Regions from separate parts of the Homo sapiens genome. Here region 1 is linked to region 2. The links come from fine-mapping of genetic effects on gene expression. A gene starts in region 2. The other region holds a variant in brackets. All regions are shown on one strand. Distances are from middle to middle. Region 1 holds the start of KRTAP9-1 (keratin associated protein 9-1). Region 2 holds the start of TNS4 (tensin 4).

What was found. PIP is the estimated chance that this variant, and not a neighbour inherited with it, causes the effect.
Region 1: its variant is the best candidate, but not a certain one, in a credible set for the expression of TNS4 in monocytes (CEDAR, PIP 0.73).

What each region holds. Positions count from the first base shown.
Region 1 is chr17:41,188,586-41,193,963 of GRCh38, reverse strand. It overlaps KRTAP9-1 (keratin associated protein 9-1), which reads right to left and starts at 4,077. Exons shown (of 1, transcript NM_001190460.1): 1 at 3,325-4,077. The coding sequence starts at 4,077. The coding sequence ends at 3,325. The variant C/T (reference allele first, on the strand shown) is at 2,171.
Region 2 is chr17:40,498,958-40,504,335 of GRCh38, reverse strand. It overlaps TNS4 (tensin 4), which reads left to right and starts at 2,713. Exons shown (of 13, transcript NM_032865.6): 1 at 2,713-2,802. RefSeq lists an enhancer at 4,300-5,171.

The DNA.
Region 1 (5,378 bases), 690 kb before region 2:
TCCATACCTCACCAGCATCTATTGTTTCTTAACTTTCTAATGATCGCCATTCAGAGTGACATGAGATGGTATCTCATTGTGGTTTTGATTTGCATTATCTAATGATCAGTGATGTTGAGCTGTTTTTCATATGTTTATTGGCTGCATAAATGTCTTTTTTTGAGAAGTGTCTGTTCATATCCTTTGCCCACTTTTTGAGGGAGTTATGTATTCATCTAAGAAATCTTCACCTAATCTACAGTCCTAAAACTTTTTTCTATGTTTCCTTCTAAAAGTTTTGTAGTTTTAGGTTTTACACTTTGGCCTGTGATCCATTTTGAGCTTATTTTTGTATATATGTAATGTATAAATCAAAGTTCTATTTTTTTTTCTTTTTGCTCATGGATGTTTAATTGTTCCAGCACTGTTTATTCAAAAGACCACAGATTATCTGTATATCCACTTGGCATCTTGTCAAAAAATCAATTGATAATATATATGTGAATCTCTTTCTTGTCTCTCAATATTTTCCATTGATCTATATCTCTCATTTCACCAGTACTTCCCCCAAACAGCTTTGTTTTGGAAAGCAGAAAAATGTTGTATCATTTATGCAACACATATGAGTTGCTTTAACTTCTTCAACACTGACTTCCTCAGCTTGAACATGGGGCCACTAATACTTACCTTTGGGATTGCCTGGGAATGAGACAGAGGGCGCATGGAGCAACTACCTCAATACCTAGTGTATAGCAGGCTCTCAGTAAATGTCAGCAAATTACCCATTCATTCCCCCTGTTGGAAAGTTAATAACCCGGCAGAGAATTCCAGATACATCCCCTAGGAAGATGACATGTCTCTGTCACATCTAGTAGTTCGCTCACCCAAAGCACCTTCAGGTCTCTTAAGAAGGTGGCCACAGTTGTGGGGTGGGGGGAGCGGGTAGAGATAGCATTAGGAGATATACCTAATGTAAATGATGAGTTAATCGGTGCAGCAAACCAACATGGCACATGTATACATATGTAACAAACCTGCACGATGTGCACATGTACCCTAGAACTTACAGTATAATAAAAAAATATAAAAATATATAAATTAAAATTAAAAAATAATAATAATAATTAAAAAGAAGGTGGCCACAGTCAAAACCTCTTAGTGTCCTCCCAAAGCTGAATTAGCCTTCGTACTGCTGCGTCCTCTGGCTATTCCTTTCCTTATTCAGTTTCTCATCAGAAGATCCAGTTTCCTCCATTTAGGAACCAACTTAATGCCCATCTTGGCTTTAAATAGTGCATCATTTGTTCCCATTTTCATGTTTCTAACATTTCTCCCTTTTTTTCTGAAAATTCTGATTTTGACTTCCTTTAGCATAATTGACTTTATCTTCTTTATCTCATAAAACACAGGGAGTTATTTTGTTTTCTTTTATGGCCCAGAGATTATGATTAGATCAAAGGGCATAAGTCCATTGCATGGTTACCTTAATTCTTAGGATTCTGTACAAATTTATCTTCCCTTAACAAAGTTCATGTTAGGAAACAAAATTGCCTCAAAATTTGGGAACCCAGGAAGCATGGTCCAATCTTGTGCGCTTTGCAAAAGTGATTCTTAATCCTAATTCCTGTTAAAATAAATGAAATGATACCCAGATGCTTAATCATGACAGCAAAGAGGAGGTTCTTCGTGGTGAGAGTAGGGCCGGGAAAACCCATGTCACACTAGTTGTTGGTGACAGATTCTTCAGTGGTGGATCAGAATCCAGAGACACAAAGCTCTTTTCATGGACTAGAACACTTTTTAAAAAGTTTTATTTATTTTTATTTTTTATTTTACTCTAAGTTCTGGGTTACACGTGCAGAATGTGCAGGTTTGTTACATAGGTATACATGTACCATGGTGGTTTGCTGCACCTAACAACCTGTCATCTAGGTTTTAAGCCCCGCATGCATTAGGTATTTGTCTCAATGCTCTCCCTCCCCTTGCCCCCCATCCCCCGACAGGCCCTGGTGTGTGATGGTCCCCTTCCTGTGTCCATGTATTCTCACAGTTCAACTCCCACTTATAAGCGAGAACATGCAGTGTTTTGTTTTTCTGTTTCTATGTTAGTTTGCTGAAATGATGGCTTCCAGCTTCATCCATGTCTCTGCAAAGGACATAATCTCAATCTTTTTATGGCTGCATAGTATTC[C/T]ATGGTGTATATGTGACACATTTTCTTTATCCAGTCTATCACTGACAGACATTTAGGTTGGTTCCAAGTCTTTGCTATTGTAAATAATGCTGCAATAAACATACATGTGCAGGTGTCTTTATAGTAGAATGATTTATAATCCTTTGGGTATATACCCAGTAATGGGATTGCTTGGTCAAATGGCATTTCTGGTTCTAGATCCTTGAGGAATAGCCACACTGTTGTCCACAATGGTTGAACTAATTCACACTCCCACCAAGAGTGTAAAAGCATTCCTAGAACTCTTAAAGATGGTCTCTAGTGGTCATAGAGGTGGGGAGAGTATTTGGGAAGTGCTTTGTAGATAGAAAAGTGTTTGCTTGAGATGTGACTTAAAATGTACATCTTCCCTGCACTCAATCACCACTGTTGCATCTACCCGGAGAAAAATGTTTTTAAAAAAGTGTCCTTAACCTGGATTCAAAGTACCTGGTCATTGAACCTTCCCTTGTCAATTGCTAGTTGTATGGCAAATCATTTTCTCATCACTAAAATGTTTGCTCTGTCCAACTTGTAGGTCATTGTGAGACTTGAACAAGATAATAAATATAAACCACAACTCAAAAGTAAGGCTTCACAAAGCAACTGCTGCAAACAAACAAACAAATGGAACAAAAATCATACCATAGGATGCAGGATAATATAAATTTTATTAGGAAAGACCAGGTAGGGAGACAATTAAAAGTGATCATGAAAGAGTTTAGTAATCTGGCAGAGGCTACTAAATAAAATGTATATATCTAAAAAGATGATCAGTATTGATCATTATAGAGAGTTAGATATGCAGTCTTAAGAATTTTTTTTTAAGTTCCATAGGGGCAAAAGCTGATGACCACTTTCTGTGGCTGAGTCCATGTATCCATGTCAATTAGGTGGAGTTGACTGACCACCATCTGGTACATTAACACAGAGGGAATGAAGAAGAATGAAAGTGAGGTAGACTGCAAACCTTCAGCAGAATCCCAAGCATGGTAGGAAGAAGATGATCACAAAGTTCAGTGTCAGAATGTTGTTTCTCAGAAAAGCTTAGCGAATGTTTCTTGGTGGAATAGGAACTTTGACAAAATGTTTCAGGAAATATGTCTCTGGTGGGTGGTGGGTCTGCAGCAAGTGGATTAGCAGCAGGAAGGCTGGCAGCAGCTGGAGACACAGCAAGGACTGCAGCAACAGCTGGGGCGGCAACAGGTGGTCCTGTAGCAGGTGGTCTGGCAGCAGGTGGGACGGCAGCAAGGCAGACAATAGCTGGACTCATTGCAGGTTTGGCTACAGCAGCTGGACCCACCACAGGTTGGCTGGCAACAGGGTGTGCTGCAGCATCTGGTCACACAGGATGGTTGGCAGCAGGTGGATCTACAAATGGTTTGACAGCATGTTGGGTGGCAGCAAGGCTGGCAGCAGCTGGACCCACAGCAGGTGGGCTGGCAAGAGGTGTTCCTGCAGCAGGTGGGCTGGCAGCAGGTAGGCTGGCAGCAGGTGGTCCTGAAGCAGATAGTTTGATAGCAAGTCGGGTGACAGCAAGGCTGACAGCAACTGGACCCACAAATAGGCTGACAGCAGCTGGACCCACAGCTGGTTTGGCCACAGCAGCTGGACCCACAGCAGGTGGGCTGGCAGCAGGGTGTGCTGCAGCAGGAAGGCTGGCAGCAGCTGGCCACACAAGTGGGCTGGCAGCAGGTGGTCCTGCAGCAGGTGTTTTGACAGCAAGTTGGGTGGCAGCAAGGCTGGCAGCAGCTGGGCACACAGCAGGAGGGCTGGCAACAGGGTGTGCTGCTGCAGGTGGTCACAGTGGTGGGCTTCCAGCAGGTTGTCCTGCAGCAGGTGGTCCTGCAGCATGTAGGCTGACAGCAAGGGGAACAGCAGTGGGTCATGGTGTCAGGGGTGAAGGGTGGGCTCCTGTTCAGAGGTGAGTTTCCAAGAATCTGATGACCCCCTTCTAGTATCTGGACCTTTTATACACTGGTTCCCAAATCTGGAACCAATGAGCAGAATTTTCCTGGTTATTATTTATGACATTATTTTTCATAACCTATAGGGAATTGCCCAGGGACGAAGTGTTCCTTAAGTGTTATGAATCTTCTGAAAATAAATGATTGTTCTACTTAACAATAGATAACCCATAAAAACTTATATCCAGAAGTGAGAGAGGTGATCAACATCAATAGCATCATTTAACTATAAAGTATATATTTTTATTTATTATTTTACTGCTATTATTATCTTAGAGACAAGGTTTCACCTGTCACTCAGGCTAGTGTGCAGTGGCGCGATCATAGCTCATTGTGGCCTTGAACTTCTGGACTTAAGCGATCCTCCTACCTCAGCCTCCCAGAGTGATGGGATTACGGGCATGAGCCACTGTGCCTCGCCTGAATTATCATTCTTTAAGACAGAGTACATTGACTGATCCCCTGACAACTGAAACTAACTTGAAGAGGCCAGAACTATTGTCACCACCTACATTTTCCCCTCCAGCACTAGAACATGGTGATTAACTCAAGGTGACAAATGTAAACCATATTTTAAAATATTTTCCGTTAAAATGTATTTTTTATCAAACTTTTCATCTGTGTCACACAAACACAGATTCAATGACAGTAATTCTAATAGTAATAGCAACTCCACTTGGGTATCTCAATTCCTGAAACAGGGGACTGGGCTCAATTGTAATTGTCGTAATCTTTTCCATGCTGAGCTCCACATCTGTTGATGGCCCTAAGTACAAACATCCCTGGGTACATGATGTTTACGCTTAGTGGTGCAAAGAAAAGTTTAAAAGCAGTTAGTCAGACAACTAAAATATTTTGCTTTGAATTGCAGTTTGAAAATACAAACACCGTTGTGTGTGTTTTTTTTTTTTTTTTTGAGACGGAGTTTCGCTCTGTCGCCCAGGCTGGAGTGCAGTGGCGCGATCTCGACTCACTGCAAGCTCCGCCTCCCGGGTTCACGCCATTCTCCTGCCTCAGCCTCCCGTGTAGCTGGGACTACAGGCGCGCGCCACCATGCCCGGCTAATTTTTGTATTTTTAGTAGAGACGGGGTTTCACCGTGTTAGCCAGGATGGTCTCGATCTCCTGACCTCGTGATCCGCCCGTCTCGGCCTCCCAAAGTGCTGGGATTACAGGCGTGAGCCACCGCGCCCGGCCGTGTGTTTTAAATGAAGGAACAAACGG
Region 2 (5,378 bases):
GCCACCACACCCAGCCAAATAAATGTATTTTGAATGAATGAGTAATGTGGGTTCTCTACAAGAAAAAAACTCAGTCAGAAATTACATTTCTTAGTTTCTTTTTTTTTTGAGATGGAGTCTTGCTCTGTCACCCAGGCTGGAGTGCAGCGGTGCGATCTCGGCTCACTGCAAGCTCTGCCTCCTGGGTTCACGCCATTCTCCTGCCTCAGCCTCCCGAGTAGCTGGGACTGCAGGCACCCGCCACCACGCCCGGCTCATTTTTTGTATTTTAATAGAGACGGGGTTTCACTGTGTTAGCCAGGATGATCTCGATCTCCTGACCTCGTGATCCACCCACCTCGGCCTCCCAAAGTGCTGGGATTACAGGCGTGAGCCACTGCACCCGGCCATTTCTTGGTTTCTTTAATTGATTTTCCCTCTCCCTTAGTGAGAGACATGCAGAATACATCAAAATATAGGCTGGACTTTTTTTTTTTAATCTACTTGGAATCCCTTCTTTCAGAAGAGTAGATGTAGGACAAGGTGCCCCCGTCAACTAGGGAAATAGTGTATTTTGAGGTTGAAAAGAAATGCTGTGAATAGGCTTATATCTAGCAAAGAATTGAATTAATAATTAATAACCTTCCAAAACAGAAAGCACCAGGACCAGACAGTTTTACTGGTGAAATCTACCAAACATTTGAGGAAGAAATAGGACCACTTCTCTACAACCTCTTTCAGAAGATAGAAGCAGAAGGAACACTTCCCAACTCATTTTATGAGGCCAGCATTGCTGAAACCAGAGATACAAAAGAAAACTAGACACCAATATCACTCATGAACATAGATGCAAAAATCCTCCACAAAATGTTAGCAAATTGAACCCAACAATGTATTAGAAGAATTATACAGACCCAGGCATAGTGGTACATGTCTGTAATCCCAGCTACTCCAAAGTCTGAAGTGGGAAGATCACTTGAGTCCGGGAGGTTGAGACCAGCCTGGGCAACATAGCAAGACCCCATCACAAAAAAAAAAAGAATTATATACCATGACCAGGGGGTTCATCCCAGGTATGCAAGGAGGGTTCAAAATTCAAAAGTAAATTAATGTAATCTATCACATCCATAGGCTAAAGAAAAAATGTCATATCTATAGATGTATAAAGAAATGCCACTCCATCCATCCCTTGATGATCACGGCAAAGGGCAGTGATGTGGTGTTGGGCAGGGTTTGTGAGGCAGCTGGGGCTGAAATCACTGTTCTGAGACCATCTTAAGCTAAAGGAAGCAGCTGGGTGTGAAACAAAAGAGCCAATCTGCCAAGAAAGACCATAACCCCCAGGTATGGGTCTGTAAGGCTGGAGGACCCCCTGGCCCTGAAGAACCACTGCAGAGGCTATCCATACCAGCCCCAGGGGAGATGGCCAGGGTTACCCCGGAGTTGCCACAGTCTCTGCCCAACACTTCGCCCTACTGTAACCTGCCCCTTCCACTCAAGAAACTCACGAGTCGCCCCTCCCACTCTCCCACAATCATGAGCCACAGCCTCATGGGGGAAGCCGCCATGTGCAGTGACATCCACTCCAGGGCAGGAGCACCACATTTTTCATCCAAAGACATAATTGCTCATCAAGCCATGTGCCAACAAGGCTGCATGGACACCTAGGGACACCTTTTATGTCACCATCAGGAAGGGGCACCTTATATAACTTTCCATAGCTTTGCTCACCGGCCTCCCATGCACTAGTTCACCATGCCTCAGTGAAACCCCAGGGCATCAAAAACTGTAAGGCCAGAAGCCCTTCCACTGGGCATAATGGGGGCATGGGGCAACCCACCCCTGAGATTAGCCTACTGGGATCACCATGAGTCCCTGGGCTGGAGACTTCGCCAGCTCCCTCACTTCAGACCGCTCCCAGACCAGGCTCTGCCATCAGCACCCTCCCCTCACCATGTCTGAACACCTCCTTACAACATTCTAGGACCCCTGCCCCTCTAGAACAGGGAGAGAGTTGGAACCATGGAGAAGGAGCTACCAGACCAGACTTCTGGGCTTCCTGATCTCACCCTCCAATGTCCTCCCCTCAGGGAACTTCCACCCTGGGGCACAGACCAGACGAGGGACAGAGATAGCCCATGAGTGAAGGAACAGCTATAAGCCCCTTCTCAAAGCCCTCCAGACACTTCAGCCTCCTTTCCTTGAGTTAGAGGCCCCATCCCAAGCTAGAGTCATTACTGTAAAAGGAGAGAAAGAAGAAAAGACAAGCTCGTGCCTAGCCTTACTTCCAGTGGGCCCTTACCCTGTGCCTGTCCCAGTGTGACCCAGCACAAAGGGGGACTGCAGAGGGTCTCCTGCCCACTGGCATCCTGCTTTGTCAAGGCCCTCACTCTCTGCCAGCTCTGCCAACCCATGGCCTCTGCCCCAGCCAGCACCTGAGGAGTGCCCACTGCACACCTTGATTCTAGCTATGCCCTGTCCAAGCAAGGACTCCCTGGCCATGTGGTGCCACGAGAAGCCCAAGCAGGAACTTGGGAGCCCCTCACACACACCCAGACCCAAAACCCACCACCCAGTGCTTCCCTTCCTGCTGCCTGTGCCAGCCCCACCTGAGCTCACTGGATCCAGCAGGGGTGGGGCCTACTGCTGTCAGGGCCACGTGCAGGGCCCGCCCGGAGGGGAGGAGAGAAGGCGGGCAAGCTGCTTTTAAGGCAGGTCTGGAGGTGAACTGGCGCCTCTCCTGACTCTTCACCTGGACTCTGAGTCGTCTTGGTCCCAGGAGCCAGTAGTGAAGGCAACAGTCTGCCCACCTGTGGACACCAGGTAGGTGCCTTTATTCTTTAAGAAGAGAGGAACACGGAGCACCTTTGCTGGCCCTGATTCATTTAAACATTTTTTTTTTTTTTTTTGAGATGGAGTCTTGCTCTGTCACCCAAGCTGGAGTGCAGTGGCGCGATCTCGGCTCACTGCCAACGTCTGCCTCCAGGGTTCAAGCGATTCTCCTGCCTCAGCCTCCCAAGTAACAGGGATTACAGATGTTTGCCACCATGCCCGGCTAATTTTCTTATGTTTAGTAGAGACGCGGTTTCACCATGTTGGCCAGGCTGGTCTCAAACTCCTGACCTCAGGTGATCCTCCCACCTTAGCCTCCCAAAGTGCTGGAATTACAGGCGTGAGCCCAGCCTCATTTAACCTTTTGTCTTCAGCTTCTCCATTTCTCAGGGCTCAGAGTGAAGGTGGGGAGAAATGGGGTGGAGGATGTGGATGAGACAGAGATGGTCTCAGGATCACAGACCGCGGAGTTCAGCAGTTCAAGGGAACTAAACCTGTGCCCCTCGGCAAATAGATGAGAGAGCTGAGGGCCACAGAGAAGAGGCTTGCCTGAGGTCATGGAAAGGGACTGGACACAGAACCCAGGCCTCTCGCCTCCCAGCGCTCTGGGAGCCCTCTGGGCACTTCAGAGGTAGACAGGACTGGGAGATGGGGCGGCTGGCCTTCACTGGTCCTATGGGTCCCTGCCTGAGGTCCACGTCCTGCGTCACCGGGTCTGGGTGGGAGGGATGGGAAGATCGGGAGCCAGTTTTCAAAAATAGGGGGTGCAGTGGAGATTGGGCTAATGAGGCAAAGTGCTTTGGGGGAGACTCAGGCTTTACCCTTGCCCCACCCTCTCCCTTCACTGACCTGGGCTCATTGGGAGAGAGTAAGTCAGGAGAAGAGGTTGGCAATGACACGGAAGAGGGGATTTGCCAAGGCACCAGGACTCCCCAGAGTCCTTGGGAACAAAGAAAGAGATCTGAGTCAGAATCAGAAGTGGGAGCGGGTAGGGGGCACCTACAAATAGAGCAGAGGTGGCTGGAGCCCTCCTTGCCCCCGCCCCGTGCCTCCCAACCACACAGAGCCCCGGGCCCAGGGACTCTCCCCACCACTTACAGCAAGAAAGAGCAAGTTAGAGGAGTGTGCGGGGCCGCGAAGGGGGCAGCATTCAGGAATACAGGAGTAAGATGGAGCCCTGCCTTGGTACATCCAAGGGCGACGCAGAGCCTTAAAAGTGAGGGGAGGCTGAAGAGGAGCGTAGGGGCTGCCTGCCCTTTGCTCAGCTCCAGGTCTGTCCCTCTTGGTTCCAGAATCCCAGAAGGGGCAGCGGTGGACAGGGTTCTTAAATATGTGAAGCAGCAGCAGAGGCTAAAAGTGTGGGACCGTGGAGCAAGACCACCTGGGTTTAAACCCCAATTCACAGTTGGGGTTGTATGACCTTGGGCAAATTCCTCAACCTCTCCAGCCCTGCAGCAATAGCACCCTCCTCAGAGAGCTGTTGAGAAAATGCAAGGTGTTCAGTGTCTGTTATTATCACATCCCCATCACACAGATGGGACAACTGAGGTCTGCCCAGAGAGGAAAGGACGCTTGCCCAGCGTGGCACAAAAGCTGTGTCCAAATTAGTAAGCAGGTATACTGGGTCCTGGTTGCGAGGGGACACCCAGCCCTCCTTGAGCTCTGCAAAGTCAGCAGCCCCAGCCTCCTCTGCAGGACACAGCCAGAAAACCCTGCAGGGAGCGCCCAGATCCTGTCCCAACAAACCCAGTCCACTTGGAGCCTGTGTGGAAAAAGCCGTGGTTCCGGCTCTGTGTCCTCAGCTGTCCCGGGAGGGCGGGAGCGCAGAGGCCGGCTCCCTTCCACTTCCATTTATAGAAAGCTTCCCGTGCCCGGGATGCCCCGCCCCCTGCAGGACCTGGCCAAGGAAAAGTCTGGCATCAGACCTACCGGAGCCACGGGCGTTGGGGGAGGCAGGAGAGGGGAAGGGGCCCTGGCTTTTCTCATGAAACCTGTGCGACCTTCAGCCAATCATGCCCCCTCTCTAGATCCCAGGTGTCCCTCTGCACTTGAATTCCATGTGGCATTGTAGCAGGACGAGCCGCAGACAAAACTCCTCAGACACCAAGTTAAAGAAGGAAGGGGTTTATTCGGCCGGGGGCATCAGCAAGACTCCTGTCTCAAGAGCCGAGCTCCCCGAGTGAGCATTTCCTGTCCCTTTTAAGGGCTCACAACTCTAAGGGGGTGCGTGTGAGAGGGTCGTGATCAATTGAGCAAGCAGGGGGTACGTGACTGGGGGCTGCACGCACCGGTAATTACGTGGGAACAAAACAGGAAAGGGATTTTCACAGTGCATTTCTATACAATGTCTGTAATCTATAGATAACATAACCGATTAGGTCAGGGGTCGATCTTTAACTACCAGGCCCAGGGTGTGGCGCTGGGCTGTCTGCTTGTGGATTTCATTTCTGCCTTTTAGTTTTTACTTTTTCTTTCTTTGGAGGCAGAAATTGGGCATAAGACAATATGAGGGGTGGTCTCCTCCCTTAGCATAAGGAATTAAGATTCCAAAATCCCACACCTGGGTT